Regions from separate parts of the Homo sapiens genome. Here region 2 is linked to region 1. The links come from fine-mapping of genetic effects on gene expression. Tissue or cell type: whole blood. Region 1 holds a variant in brackets; the other region holds the start of a gene. All regions are shown on one strand. Distances are from middle to middle.

Region 1 (8,263 bases):
ATCAGTATTACTAGGCAACATTGCTTATAGTAAAAATGATCTCAAATTGGTAAAATGCATCTGAACCAGGAGAAATTTTAAATAAATGATGGGAATGCCTTTGGATTTTCCTGGATGGTGGTGACTTTTAAAACTGGGCTTGGCTTGTGGAAACCATGCCTATGGAGTTGTTACAGAAGCTTATGGCTCCTGTTAGGGCAGGGCCCACATATACCCAATTGGATCTCATCTCCTTGCAACAAAGGTATTCTGCTGCTATATAGACAGTTGCATGGTCTGCTGGCAAGCTGTGGTCGCTTCAAATGCTTCTGGGTAGACTGGTACTCAGTGTGGTCTATGGTATTCTGGGGTGAGTCTGTTTAGTTGAACCTAAGAAGACACCTGCATCTCCTCCATGGATGTTGGTGTGGGTTATTAAAACTTTTTTTTTTGGCCGGGTGCAGTGGCTCAGGCCTGTAATCCCAGCACTTTGGGAGGCCGAGGCAGGTAGATCACTTCAGGTCAGGAGTTTGAGACCAGCCTGGCCAACATGGTGAAATTCCGTCTCTACTAAAAATAACAAAAATTAGCCGGGCATGATGGCAGGTGCCTGTAATCCCAGCTACTTGGGAGGCTGAGGCAGGAGACTCTCTTGAACTCAGGAAGCGGAGGTTGCAGTGAGCTGAGATCACGCCACTGCACTCCAGCCTGGGCAACAGGCTTTGAGACTTTGTCTAAAAAATAATAATATTTTCTAATTTGATGTTAACGTTTATTATTTATGAAATTGTATAAGATAATTTTGAACATCTCTGATTTTTAGTATGTGTGTCTATAAAGGTCCATTCAACTGCAATTGAATATTGGAGTTGAGCAGATTCGAGTTGTACATAGAGATGGAAGAGTAATTACACTGTCTTATCAGGAGCAGGAGCTACAGGATTTTCTTCTGTCTCAGGTAACAGTTGCAGATTTTGTCTTAAGCCCCCTTCTTCGCATAGCTACTTAAAGAACAAATTGGTTAAAAAGTAGTTAAAATGTAATAAATTGTGTAAGAAGAAAAAAAATTTTTTTCCAGTAGAAATTAAATTCTGTTTAATTTCTAATGCACATTTTACAACCTGTTGGTTAACTGGAAGTACTGATAAGCTGTCCTAGGTTTTCACATAGTTTATGTTAAGATGAAGGACCAGTTCTGAGACTAGCAAGTTTTTTTTCCCACATGTCATATTTGTGAAGGTTTACAAAATCTCTAGGGTTTACAACATCTCCAGAGTTGTTGTAGAAAGTGAAGAAAACTAGAGAAAGGGAGATCATATAAAAAACTATAATGACCATTATCCATAATAAATGAAGTAGTTTAATCTCAAGTCCAAGGGGCAGTATAGAAAGTGATGGGTTTGAGGCTGGGTATGGTGGTTTGCGCCTATAATCCCAGCACTTTGGGAGGCTGAAGCGAGAGTATCACTTCAGGTTGGGAGTTCAATACCAGCCTGGGCAACATAGCAAGACCCCTGTCTCCACAAAAATAGAAAATTGAGTGGGTGTGTTGGTATGTACCTATAGTCATAGCTATTAGGGAGGCCGAGGCAGGAGGGTTGCCTGAGCCTGGGTGTTCAAGGTTACAATGAGCTATAATTGGTCCCACTGTACTTCAGCCCAGGGTGACAGAGCAAGATACCATCTCTTTTTAAAAAAAAAAAAAAAAAAAAAAAGGTGATGTGTTCTAGTCCCAGCTCTACGACAAACTTGCTTTGTGACATCAGACAAATTTCTAGCCCTTTCTTTTCATATCTAACTGTATTTTCCCTAATTTCTTCATGGAGTTTTTAATGACCCAGTGAAATACTGAATTGTGAGATATAGGGTAGGTTTTTGAAATGCTAATGCAAGATACTATTTTTTTTTCACATTAAAAAAAATAGTATCTTGCATTAGCATTTCAAAAACCTACCCTATATCTCAGAAGCAATAATCTTATATACTGATTTGCTTCTTTGGTGGCCAAGTAAGTAAAATTCATTTGTTAGGTATGGCAGCTCTTGGCTGATTACATCTAAATTGGCTTTGGTTACTTTAAGCACACACACAAAAATATATTAGAACACTATTGAGTAGGTCCCAGAATCAATGGGAGGTCTAGAGAACAAGGCTTGCAAATGGATAGGGATCAAAGCTAGGTATGAGAACCATGGCCAGAGGAATGGCACTCATGCTGTCCCAGCACTACTGCCTTCAGCACTGGTGACAAAATGCATTCTAAATTGCCCCCATTGTATCAGTCAGAGTCTTAACAAGAAATAGGTGGCAGACTCAGGAGGATCTAAAGATCTATTTACAAAGAAGTGGGTGTAGGTGAGCCACCAGGGATAGTGTGGTAACCTGCTGCTAGTAGTAGTAACCAGGTAACCAGGCCCCAGGGACTTAGTGGTCACCATTCCTAGGCCAAAGTTAAGAGGAAGGACAGATTACAAGAACCCTAAGGGGGAGAGTCGTGTAGAACAGTCCATCTTGAGAAGCCTAGCAGCCAGTCAAGAGATACAACCAGCCTAGACAACCTCACAGGGAGGGTGCCAGGGGAATAAATACCCTGACCTCACTCTTCCCTGCCATCCTGCTGTCTCCCATTACCTGAACCCAGCCCAAAGCCAGAGGATGTAAGAAGGTATTAATGTAACCACGTGTGTCAGCCTCCCAGGGCAGAAAATAAGGTAGGCAGTGGATTTGAAGGGGCAAATGTTACACCATATTCAGTGATCTAGATGAGAGTCTTCAGTTGGCCAAATTTATGTCATATGTCTTTGCTTAAGCTGCCAGTGGGCAGGAGAAGCAAGTATCAGGCAACTTTAGCTTTGGCAGTGGAAGGTGGAGTCCTATTCCCTCCCCCTAAGTTACGCACAGGAGGATTCCTCAGACCTAAGATAGGGTTGCTGTAGTAGTCAGTGAGCACCCCAACAAAAGTTTACTTCATGGTCGTGATGTTAAGTCACTGCAGATATCTCTGCTGACTGTCAGTCAAGTGTCCTTTTTCATTCACAGATGTCACAGCACCAGGTACATGCAGTTCAGCAACTCGCCAAGGTTATGGGCTGGCAAGTACTGAGCTTCAGTAATCATGTGGGACTTGGACCTATAGAGAGCATTGGTAATGCATCTGCCATCACGGTGGCCTCCCCAAGTGGTGACTATGCTATTTCAGGTACTTTCTGCTGCTTTGAATGAGAAGGGACCATTGGGAGTTTGGCTTTAACATTTAGTTTTAATAATTAAATATGGGTAAGAGTAATTTATCTCTGCAATAAATTAGTTAATGTTGTATTTACACCGAATGTTTATTTGATCATAGCTATTATGCAGAGCAAGAGATTATTATTTCTCTTTCTAGTAATTATAATAAATGTTTAGATTGGCAGCACATTTTCCTGAGATAGTCTGAAAAGTATCATCAGCATTGTTACTCCTGCAGTCCCAAAGTTTAATGGATAAAAACTTTAAAAAAAATATATACTGCTGTAAACATGGGAAGAAAAATATCTGATCCTAAAAATAGTAAAGGGATGGAACAGAGAGGAATATCTAATGCAAGGTACTACTTTTTTCACATTAAAAAAATAGTAACAGTTTTTAAAATATTCTAAAATAAATAATTAAAAATAATTTTAAATAAAGTGTTTTGTTTTATTTTATCTATTTATTTATTTTTGAGACGGAGTCTCGCTCTTTCGCTCAGGCTGGAGTTCAGTGGCGTGATCTCAGCTCACTGCAACCTCTGCCTCCCAGTTTCAAGCGATTCTCCTGCCTCAGCCTCCCGAGTAGCTGGGACTACAGGTGCCCATCGTCATACCCAACTAATTTTTGTATTTTTAGTAGAGACGGGGTTTTGCCATGTTGGCCAGGCTGGTCTCAAACTCCTAACCTCAGATGATCTGCCTGCCTCGGCTAACCTCAGATGATCCGCCTGCCTCGGCCTCCCAAAGCGCTGGGATTACAGGCGTGAGCCACCGCACCCGGCCGAGGAGAAGTATTTTATTAAGCACCTTCTACGAGTGGGCACTTTAATAGGCACTTGTATGAGTATTACATAGCTTAAATTTACATTTGAAGCGCTTATGGTTTTAGTGTGATCTTTGTTTCTGATATCTGCTCTGACTACTTTAAAAATACAGTCATGTGTTGCATAATGACAGGGACAGGTTCTGAGAAATGTGTTGTTAAGAGGATTTCATCGTATGATAATAGAGTGCACTTACACAGCCCTAGATGGTACAGCCTACTACATGCACATCTAGGCTTCATGGCATAGCCTGTTGCTCCTAGGCTACAAACCTGTACAGCATGTTACTGTACTGAATACTATAGGCAGTTGTAACACAACAAAAGCAGTTGACTGAAATGTTA[C/T]GCAGCTCATGACTGTATTTGAAAGAGTGGGTAGTTAGAAATATTTCCTCACAGGATCACAGCTTGTGAATCTGCAAGCTTGGTCATTGCTGGATCTTGATTGCTAGGAATTTCAAAATACCCTTTTCCTCTTTCCCAAATAATAGTTAAAACCTCATTAAAACCTGAAATTCTTAATTCAGAATAATCTTTCCTTCATCCCTTTCAGTCCTGATTTTAAGTGGTTGAGGTTTCTTTACATATTAGGCATGTATTAACAATTCATTGAATGATTGCCTTATCAAATGAATGTATTGAAAAAAATAGGTGAGTGTACTAGGCGTGGTGGCTCACGCCTGTAATCCCAGCACTTTGGGAGGCTGAGGTGGGAGGATTGCTTGAGCCCAGGAGTTTGAGACCAGCCCTGGCAACATAGAGAGACCTTGTCTTTAACCGCCTCCCAAAAAAAGCTTTGTGTTTTTCAGTGCTGCATGTGGAAACAAACAAAAAGATGATTTCCTGAAATTATAGAGGACATTTGACATTCCTAGGTCAAAACTCACCTTGCTTAATCTTTGTGGTACAAATAATAATTCATGAATATTTATACCATCCTCTTATATAGAAGTTAGAGTTTTTCTCTTGCATGTTGAAACTGAAAAAGCACTTTTTTACAAGAATATTTAAGTTGGTAGACAAAGTTTTTGTATTCACAGTAGAATGGAGTTGTGGGATTTATCCTTGTTATTTCTAGTTTGGTAAACTAGAGTGTATTGATATTTTGGTTTTTCTCCACAGTTCGTAATGGACCTGAAAGTGGCAGCAAGATTATGGTTCAGTTTCCTCGTAACCAATGTAAAGACCTTCCAAAAAGTGATGTTTTACAAGATAACAAATGGAGTCATCTTCGTGGGCCATTCAAAGAAGTTCAGTGGAATAAAATGGAAGGTCGAAATTTTGTTTATAAAATGGAGCTGCTTATGTCTGCACTTAGCCCTTGTCTACTATGATTTTTTCCAGATGTTTCCTAAAGAAGTTTCCAGAAACTTTGACTTGAAATGTTTGCAGATCAACTATAAGCACAAAGAAGAGATAACTTCCAAAAGAGTGCTGTTTTTAAAAATAATAATTAGGAAATGTTTATTTAGCACTTTCAAACTTTTCACTTTATAAATGACAAGTGCTTTGAAATGCAGAAGTTTATGTACAGTTGTATATACAGTATGACAAGATGTAAAATAATATGTTTTTCATGCAGTTTAAAATATTACTAACTTAAGGGTTTCTATGTGCTTTTTAAAATATTCCTTCTTTGATGTTGACATCAAATAAAGTATGTGGTTTAAAAAAATCTCCAAATACCTTTTTTTCCCCCCAAATACTTTCTAAACTTTTTTTTTTTGAGATGGTATCTCACTCTGTAGCCCAGTCTGGAGTGCAGTGGTGTGATCATGGTTCACTGCAGTCTTGACCTCCCAGGCTTAGGTGATCCTTCTGTCTCAGCCTTCCGAGTAGCTGGGACCACAGGCATGCACAACCACGCCTGGCTAATTTTTGTATTTTTTATAAAGACAGGGTTTTTCCATGTTGCCCAGGCTGGTTTCGAACTCGGCTCAAGTGATCTACCTGCCTCTGCCTCCCAAAGTGCTAGGATTACAGGCGTGAGCCACCATGCCCAGCCTACTCTAAATTATTGATAACCTCTTCCTCCAGTTGTCTCCTTTAAGCTTTCCTGGGTCTAACCTACATAGGTAATTTAAGAACATCCTCAGAAAGGACAGCTGAAGGCAATAGGAGGCAGATTATCTCTTTAGGGCGTCCTCAAGTTTTTTTGGTCTGTTCTCCCACTTGATTGACCTCACCAGTTGAGACACCTAGTGTATGGCTCATGCCCAGCCTTCCACCTGGGATTCTCCAGCCTCCACCCAGCAGCCCTGGATTGCTTTCTCCAATTAAGGCCTTTCCATCAGCTCTCTGCTTTTTCAAAGCGAAAAAACTAATGGATTAGTGGGTTATCTTTTCCAAGGAACAGGTTTGCACTTCTTGGAAAAAGTGCCTAAAGTGTGCCCATTAATATGAGGATAGATTTAGGCTCATAAGCCTTTTGGTAACACTGAAAGTAGTATCATATAGGCAAGCTCTCCTTATAAGTAAGGCTTTCAATTTTTAAAACAGACATCCTGCTTTAACAATTTGTAAGATGACTGTGCAGTAATAAAAGTCCTTTGTATTTCTCCACCGTGTTTTCATTAAAGAAAAATGGAGCTTGTGGGCCACGATAGAACAACTTTGTGCTTTTTTCCCCTTCTGATCAAGATCTTGCATCTTTCTATCCATGGAAATTAAAATAATTGGTATGAATTTGCAGTTATTTAAAAATCTTGAGTGCTTCAAAAATTATTGTTGCCTGCAAAATTTGCCTTGGTCAATAGGCTAATCTGCACAATTCCACTCACATAAGGAGTCTTTTATGTGATTTTGAAGGCTCAGGCTAGAAGAGTGAGTCTGAGACTTTTGCTGAATGACCAGTTTTTGTTTATATAAACTTCTCCCATTGCAGATTGATACTTTGGTAAACTAATAAAAATGAATTCCTAAAATGAAATTTTGAAAAGATACAAAATAAAAGCCCCATTTATTTGATTATAACTTGATTAAATTGCATCAAATACTAGAATTTATAGACAGAGTCTCACTCTGTTCCCCAGGCTGGAGTGCAGCAGCACTGTTTTGGCTCACTGCAACCTCTGCCTCCTGGGTTCAAATGACTCTCATGCCTCAGCCTCCCGAGTAACTGGGATTACAGGTGTGTGCCACCACGACCGTCTAATTTTTGTAATTTTGATAAGAGGGTTTTGCCATCTTGGCCAGGCTGGTCTTGAACTCCTGGCCTCAATTGATCCGCCCACCTCGGCCTCCCAAAGTGCTAGGATTACAGGCATAAGCCACAGTGCCCAGCCCCCCCAAATATAAACATTTCTGAATGCTTTATTTTTTATTTCTCTGCTTGTCATGAATCAGTAACAAATCATGGACCAGGACCACACCTTGAGTAGAATGGCTGAGAATACATGTGCAGATACTACCGTCTGTTCTTTTAAACCCCATCTGAGTAGAGTGGGATAACTGAAGACTTTACGTTCTTCATGTCTTACTTTCCCTGTTTGGTACGTCGCTGTAGTGAGTAGCCAGTACCGACCTAAAGAATTGTAGAAACTAAAGCAAATGTGTGGGAAAATGGTAGCTTAGTTGCTGTGGTAGCAATTCTTATGCCTTGTATTTATTTACATTTTCTAGTTTAATGTTTTAACCTGAATTTCCTGGAGTTTGAAGGATGTGCTATGGAAACTTGGGAGACAGTTTGAAGAAAACCAATTAGCCCCTCAACAAGTATTAACAGGTTGGCAAGGAGCTGTGTTTGAATCTTGGCTCTGCTACTGGCTTGCTGTATGAACTTGGCAAGGATTCTCTGTGAACTTGTTTCCTTATATATAAATGAAGATAGAGGTGCCTCCTCTACTAACCTCAGTGGTGATTGAGAAGTTTCAGTAACGTTGGTAATAAATGTTAAATTCTAAAGTACTACATAAATATAAAGCATTAAGCAAGTGTGCTTCTAAGAGTCAAGCCAATTAGAAAAAATGGTTGAGACACCAGCTGTATTTATTAGGAGAAAGCATTTCAGAATGTCCTGTATTCATATTTGTATGATGTTTTATATATGGTGAAGATATTGAGTGTTTTTCATCAGATTTCTTTGCTGGAACACCATCAAATCAAAGGGATAACCTGATTATCTCATGTTGATCAGGAATTGTAATTGGCCCTTAAATGCTGGGATTACAGGTATGAGCCACCATGCCTGGCCTCCTTAGGTATTGCTGATGAATAAAAACAGGGGCAACTA
Region 2 (8,000 bases), 27 kb before region 1:
CAGTTTTCCCAGCACCATTGGTTAAATAGGGAATCCTTTCCCCATTGCTTGTTTTTGTCAGGTTTGTCACAGATCAGATGGTTGTAGATATGTGGTATTATTTCTGAGGCCTCTGTTCTGTTCCATTGGTTTATATCTCTGTTTTGGTACCAGTACCATGCTGTTTTGGTTGCTGTAGCCTTGTAGTATAGTTTGAAGTCAGGTAGTGTGATGCCTCCAGCTTTGTTCTTTTGGCTTAGGATTGACTTGGCAATGAGGGCTCTTTTTTGGTTCCATATGAACTTTAAAGTAGTTTTTTCCAATTCTGTGAAGAAAGTCATTGGTAGCTTGATGGGGATTGCATCGAATCTATAAATTACCTTGGGCAGTATGGCCATTTTCACTATATTGATTCTTCCTATCCATGAGCATGAAATGTTCTTCCATTTGTTTGTGTCCTCTTTTATTTTGTTGAGCAGTGGTTTGTAGTTCTCCTTGAAGAGGTCCTTCACATCTCTTGTCAGTTGGATTCCTAGGTATTTTATTCTCTTTGAAGCAATTGTGAATGGGAATGGTGCTCACTACCACGCCCAGCTAATTTTTGTATTTTTAGTAGAAAAGGGGGTTTCACCATATTGGCCAGGCTGGTCTCGAACTCCTGACCTTGTGATCCGCCCACCTCAGCCTCCCAAAGTGCTGGGATTACAGTCGTGAGTCACTTTGCCTGGCCAATAACACAAATTTTTAAGATCCCATGGCCAAAGGCTTCTATTGGCTTTGCTTAACCCAAGATCAACCCCTTTGGAATACATCAGTTGTACCCATTTGAAATAATAACTCACATAGCTATGAATCTGTCCCAGGAAATGGTAACTCCTTAACTGTAAGAGGAGATATATTCCTTTGTTGTTCTAACCTTATGAGATAATTAACTAAAAATTATTACCTAGTGAAAGATTATTTCCTAATGGGCTCTTGGGATATGAAAAATTCAAGACCCACAATTTTCATCCAGGAGACTGTATCTACTGGGAACAACATCCTCTAAAGGACTGTCTCCAACCAAGTGGAAGGGCTCTTACCAAGTGCTTCTTAGTAATCCTTTTGCTATTATATTAGAAGGAATAGACTCCTGGCCGGGTGTGGTGGCTCATGACTGTAATCCCAGCACTTTGGGAGGCCAAGGTGGATGGATCGCCTGAGCTCAGGAGTTCACCAACCTGGGCAAGATGGCGCGACCCCATCTCTACTAAAAATACAAAAATTAGCCGGGTGTGATGGTGGGCACCTGCCTGTAATCCCAGCTACTGGGGATGCTGAGGCAGGAGAATCACTTGAACCCTGGAGGCACAGGTTGCGGTGAGCTGAGATTGCATCACTGCACTCCAGCCTGGGTGACAGAATGAGACTCCATCTCAAAAAAACAAAAAACAGAAACTAGAATAGACTCCTGGATCCATGTCTGGATCTGAAGAGGGCTCCATCTCCTGAGGGACTGTTTCCCCAGAAGGTGATCTCTGTTTCAAAATAAGTCAATGACAGGTCTAGAACAAGATAACATCTGATGTAGGTGGCTAAAACCCAAGACTCCAAACCAGGCCTGTATCTAAACAAATGCTTAATATTAGCAAATGTTAATACATGGGGAAGACTTTCCTTTACAAGCTCCCATTAAACTTCTTTCTTTTTGTCCTTAGTTTTCATGTCTCGGCACTACTATCATTAACTGTTGCCCATAAAGCAAACCTCTTTTTGCAATGGGCTTAGGACTATGCTAATAGATTATTTAAAAAAATGCTGATTGAACATGTGGTCTCATGCCCCTTTCCAGTAGTTCTGGCTTTCCTGGTGGGTATCTTCTCTCCAAGGAAAGAAATATATTGCTCCAAGGAGAGAAGATATTGCATAGAATATCAGAAATATATTTGTGTTTCTTAAAAACAGTCATGGTGCTTGACAGTAGTATGATGAAGGATAAAGTACATCACTAGCCTATTAATAATACTTTAAAGGCTGGGCGCAGTAGTTCACACCTGTAATCCTTGCACTTTGGGAAGCCAAGGCGGGCAGATCGACTGAGCTCAGGAGTTTGAGACCAGCCTGGCCAGCAAAGTGAGACCCTGTCTCGACTAAAAACACAAAAATTAATCAGTCGTGGTGGTGTGCACCTGTAGTCCCAGCTACTCGGGAGGCTAAGGCAGGAGAATCACTTGAACCTAGGAGGCGGAGGTTGCAATGAGCCAAGATCGCACCACTGCACTCCAGCCTGGGTGACAGAGCAAAACTCCATCTCAAAAAACAAAACAAAAACAAAACAAAACAAAACGAAACAAAACCTTTACAGAGTAAAAGCCATGGAAGGAGCTTCTTAGTAAAAGAAACTAGTTTGTTAACTTTAATGCTGGCACTGTCCCAACTAAGTAATGAAACAACGACACTGTTCCAATTAAGAGATAAGACACCTTGATTTCAGAATGGTATAACACAAATTGGGGATGGTTTTATCTGGCTTATCCCTCCTTCTGTCAGCCCAGCCACCTTGTCCTTGCCACCCCAACTTTTTATTTATTTATTTTTTTTGAGACAGAGTCTTACTCTGTTGCCCAGCCTGGAGTGCAGTGGTGAGATCTTGGCTCACTGTAATCTCTGCCTCCTGGGTTCAAGTGATTCTCCTGCCTCAGCCTTCTGAGTACCTGGGATTACAGGCATGCATCACCACGCCCAGCTAGTTTTTGTATTTTTAGTAGAGACGAGGTTTCGTCATGTTGGCCAGGCTAGTCTCGAACTCCTGACCTCAGGTGATCCACCCGCCTCATTCTCCCAAAGTGGAGGATTACAGGCGTGAGCCACCGTGCCTGGCCACTTTGCCCCTTTATGTTGGGAACAAAGAAATCATACCAAAGATATCTGGCCCAAAAGCACTGGAGATATGGCATGGATACCCAAAGAACTGTGTATTCACACCATTATATTACAAAGTACTGACTGGCATGCCATTTAATGTATTTATTGATTAGCTCCAAATGGAACATTTTGGCTATGTGGCACTAACCTATGACCATGGTTACTTCCAGGATAGTTAGGATGATGTTTTTCAGGTTATGCTTAATCATATATTTGAGTAGTTTGTACTTTGCCAAAACCTGCAAATTTTCCTTATTTATGATCTCATTGGGTTCATCCTGTGTTTCATTGGTATGATCACTTAGCTTCCATCTTCATACCACAACTGAGTGTTGAAGATGTTATTTGGCATATAGAGGTCCTAACCAATTATACCCAAAAGATAGCTACATAAGTATTCCATTATTAAACAATAGTTATTCTTATGGAAAAGGCCATTATTACAAAACCGTATGGCTTTTGACATACTCACCGAAGCCCAGGGAGGAACTTGCATTATCATAAAAACTGTGTGTTATGTCTGTATCCCAGATGAATCAGATAATATCACTACGTTAATGGATAATATGAAAACCTTAACAACTAACCTTTCAGATCCAACACATCTTTAAACAACTGGCTAAGCAGCTAGTTTTGATCTTGAAGACTTGGTGGCAAAAGCTTTGCTTATTCTAGGAATCATAATCATTTGTTGTTGTCTTGTTTTTGTCTGCACTATTAGACTGCCACTGCGCCTGGCTATTAATCAGATTTTAAAATAAAGTTAAAAAAAATTTTTAAACAAATTTACACGAAAAGCAAGTACAGTGGTTCTCGAACATGATTGGGCGACAGACTGTACAGCTTGCCAGAAATAGGTTTCTCTCATGAAAATTCAACCCCCTCCACACACGGCCATCTACTTTCTTCTTCAGCAGGGACTGACACCAGGGCAACCGTATTTTCCTAAATACCTTAGGAAAGTAGTTCAAAACCTAGATATATCTTGGTCAGAACAAAACCTGGCAAACACTCATGATAAACGGTATATATAATTCCTTAAACGAAATATAGAGGTTTGTAATATAAAATAATCCATCTTTGTCTGTGGAATTCCTACTAATGAAATACGTTCTTGGAGACCCAAAGACTGAAGTTATACCACTTCTTCTTAATCTTTTAAATATTATTTGCAGGCCAGGCATGGTGACACGCTCCTATAGTCCCAGCTCCTCAGGAGGCTAAGGCAGGAGCATCGTTGGAGCCCAGGAGCTCCAGGCTGTAGCGTGCTGACAGCACTTGTGAATAACCTCTGCACTCAGCCTGGGCAACATAGTGGGACCCCATCACTAATAAAAAAGCGAGATCAACATTATTTATTCTGTTACTCGGGCATAAAATAAATATTAAGCACTTACTACATGCCAGAGTCTATTATGTCTGCTGCAGATATTGGCTGTCATAGAGTTATAACTAACAGGAAACCAAATAATTACGTAGTATAATTTTAAGTGGTGATAAGCACGATTGTTTCCCCCAAGCCATGCCCTTAATTTCTAACTCTTCAGATAGTGTTTCTTTAAAAAATTTCTTGCTAATTTAAAATAACTTTTGTTTTGAGGCAGGATCCCACTCTGTTGCTTAGGCTGGAATGCAGCGGTGAGATCTCGGCTCACTGCAGCCTCCATCTCCAGGGCTCAAGCCATTCTCCCGCCTCAGCCACCCGCGTAGCTGGACCACAGGCGCGCGCCACCAGATCTCAGTTCTCTCAACAGGACTCTCATTGCTAAGATCCAAGGATCCATTAATTTCCTTTTCCTTAACTCTTCTAGCCTCTGCAGCTTTCTTTCCTCATCCACTTTTTAAACAAACGCAGGCTTAAAAAGCAAGGAATATACCCGCCACACTCTCGGCTCCCAAACCGCTCTTTCCCTCCCTCTGCCGGCCACGCCTCTTATAGGCCCGGAAGTTTACCCCACCCTGCACCGTGATTCACCGGAAGCGCTCTAGGGAACCCTGGAGCTTCCGCGCCTGCCCAGTTTTGCTCCGAAAGACTTACCGAGGAGGGAGCTTGCGGTGCGTTCTGGGAAAGTTGCTGGGCCAGCTCCTTTGTTTCCAGTCTGAGCGTTGCGTTCGGTTTCCCGAGGGTCTTCTGAGGCACCGCGGCTGCGGGCTTCTGAGTTCCCGGCTCTCCGCAGGGAAGCCTCCTCTTCGTACCTCGTTTTTTGGCTCGTGGGGGGTCCTCCCACCGCTGGCCGACGCAGCCAGCATGTCCGGGGTGCGCGCAGTGCGGATCAGCATCGAATCGGCCTGCGAGAAGCAGGTCCATGAGGTGGGCCTGGATGGCACCGAGACGTACCTGCCCCCGCTGTCCATGTCGCAGAATCTGGCGCGTCTGGCCCAGCGGATAGACTTCAGCCAGGGTTCGGGCTCCGAGGAGGAGGAGGCGGCGGGGACCGAGGGCGACGCGCAGGAGTGGCCGGGCGCCGGGTCCAGCGCAGACCAGGACGACGAGGAAGGTAAGGCCTGCATCCGCTGCCCGAGTCCCCCGGTCTGGGTCCCAGCACCCGCGCGGGCCTCCGCCTCTCCCGCGATGGGGGTGATCTTGTGCGTGCGAGAACTTTTGAGTGTCCCTCTAGCGGAAGCGTAAGGATACTTGGTCGTCATCTTTTTGTTGCTGCCGGACAAGGTAGGACACGACTTTACGTAATACTCCTGCGGGTCTCCTTGAATGGCAGCGTTTAGAGACACTGTCAAACCGTGAAATGTTTAAATGAATGCTTCTCTGTAGAGGGCCTTTAATGTAGCACACTTAGTGGCTAAAAGAGCCCTAGATCGGGGCTCTGCCCCTTGCCGGCTGTGTGACCTTGGGCGAGTTACTTTGCATCCTTGTGCGGTGTGAATGATGATAGTAGCACCTGCAGAAAAGAGGTCTGTTTTGACTGAAATGTGTGACGAGGTCCAAGAGGTAGGCGGGTCCAGATCATGTAGAACCCAGTAGGCCGGGATAAGCGTTTGACTAGTGTTAAGACCACTGAAAGCTTTTGCAGGATAAGTAGAGATGGTTTTGTTAAAGTTTACTCTAGATGCTTTCTAATAAATGAATTATAGGGAAAGCAAAACTGGAAGGGAGGAGACTAGGAGGGAAGTGAAGAAATAATGAGTGGGTTTCAGATTCTCATTATTGTCAAGGATTTTTGAAAAAAAAATCAAAATTCTTAATTTAGTTATGCAGCACACCCAGTGTAAATGGGAATTTAAAGATGTCATTTCAGGGCAGTGCTGTTAGGATTATTAGGGGTCTATTTGCAAAAAAAGGTAAATACTACTTTATACCTCACACAAAAATTATTTCCACAGTAATTTTTGAGGATTGAAGTGCCAAATGAAGAAAGTAAAACAAAGTGTTAGAAGAAATAATGAAAGAATAGTTGTATTATTCTGGGAGTCGGATAGATCTTCTTAATTTCGGAAATAACAGGACAGGCATGGTGGCTCACACCTGTAGTTCCAACATTTTTGGAGGCCAAGGTGGAAGGATCACTTGAGCCCAGACTTCAAGACCAGCCTGAGCAACATAGGGAGCTCCTGCCTCTACAAATTAAAAAAATTAGCTGGGCGTGGTGGTGCACGTCTGTGGTCCCAGCTACTGGGGAGGCTGAGGGAGGAGGATGGATTCAGCCAGTGAGATCAAGGCTGCAGTGAGCTATGATTGTGCCACCGCACTCCAGCCTGGGTAACAGAACAAGACTCTAACATCCACACACACAACCACACACCTACCTACCTTACAAAGTATAGATATATTACTTACATAAAATTTAAAAATAATGGGAAAAGATGCCATAAGCAAAGTAAAAAGATAAATGACAGACTGGGAGAAGTTCTACACATATAACACAAATTTAGTTGATATCTTCTCTATTCAAAAAGTCCCTTCAGACTGAAAAGAAAATAATGACACTTTGGAAAAATAGGCCAAAGGTATCTGAAGGCTCATAGAGGAGAGACTTCAGATACCAATAAACAGAACATAGACTCAATCTCATTACTAGGGACTGGGAAATTAAAACATGATTAAGATACTCTTTCCATGCACAAAATTGACAGAAATTGAAAAGATTGTTAATATTCAGGGTTAGGAATGTGAACTGGTAGTGATTCTGAAAGACAATTTGGCAGTTTAATATGTGCCAACATTTAATTTTAACTTTTTTTGGTTTGTTTTGTTTTTTTTTTTGAGATGGAGTCTTGCTCTGTCGGCCAGGCTGGAGTGCAGTGGTGCAATCTCGGCTCACTGCAACCCCTGCCTCCTGGATTCAAAACGATTCTCCCACTTCAGCTTCCCTAGTATGTGGGACTGTAGGCGTGCGGCACCATGCCTGGCTAATTTTTGTATTTTTAGTAGAGATAGAGTTTCACCATGTTGGCCAGGCTGGTCTTAAATACCTGATGTCAGGTGATCCACCCTGCCTCGGCCTCCCAAAGTGCTGGGATTACAGGCCTGAGCCACTGCACCCAGCCGAAACTTTTAAATGTATATCTCCTTTGATTCACTATTACCACGACTAAAAATTTAACCTGCAGAAAAAGTTGCACATATACAGGGTATATATTCAAGATGTTTACCACTGCTAGCATTGTTGGAAGCAGTTTACTTGTTGGAAGCAATCTACATGTCCGTTAAATACAAGTGGTTAAACATACCGTACATCCATGTTCCAGAATATCATACAGTGTTAGAAGAATTAAGTAGACTCATAAGTACTAACATGGAAGTGTCTCTAGGAAATATTAAGTGGGGGCGGGGGAAAGGCAAGTAATAGAAAATTGGAAATAGATGTATGTAAGTGCATAGAAAAACCTTTGAAAGGGTACACTCACTGGGGCCGGGCGCAGTGGCTCACGTCTGTAATCCCAGCACTTTCGGAGGCCGGGGCAGGCAGATCACGAGGTCAGGAGATCAAGACCATCCTGACTAACATGGTGAAACCCCGTCTCTACTAAAAATACAAAAAATTAGCTGGGCGTGGTGGTGGGTGCTTGTAGTCCCAGCTACTGGGGAGGCTGAGGCAGGAGAATGGCATGAATCCGGGAGGTGGAGCTTGCAGTGAGCTGAGATCGCGCTACTGCACTCC

What was found. PIP is the estimated chance that this variant, and not a neighbour inherited with it, causes the effect.
Region 2: MED17 starts here. The variant in region 1 is fine-mapped to the expression of MED17 in whole blood (TOPMed, PIP above 0.99). The same link has a PIP of 0.9 or more in lung.

Annotation. Positions count from the first base shown.
Region 1 is chr11:93,806,699-93,814,961 of GRCh38, forward strand. It overlaps MED17 (mediator complex subunit 17), which reads left to right. Exons shown (of 12, transcript NM_004268.5): 10 at 820-937; 11 at 3,019-3,178; 12 at 5,155-8,263. The coding sequence ends at 5,366. Among named protein-coding and RNA genes, the nearest start is that of MED17, 27 kb to the left of the region's middle. The variant C/T (reference allele first, on the strand shown) is at 4,378.
Region 2 is chr11:93,779,383-93,787,382 of GRCh38, forward strand. MED17 (mediator complex subunit 17) reads left to right here and starts at 4,900. Exons shown (of 12, transcript NM_004268.5): 1 at 4,900-5,381. The coding sequence starts at 5,132. RefSeq lists enhancers at 4,721-5,015, 4,957-5,176, 7,185-7,684 and silencers at 5,307-5,436, 5,438-5,632.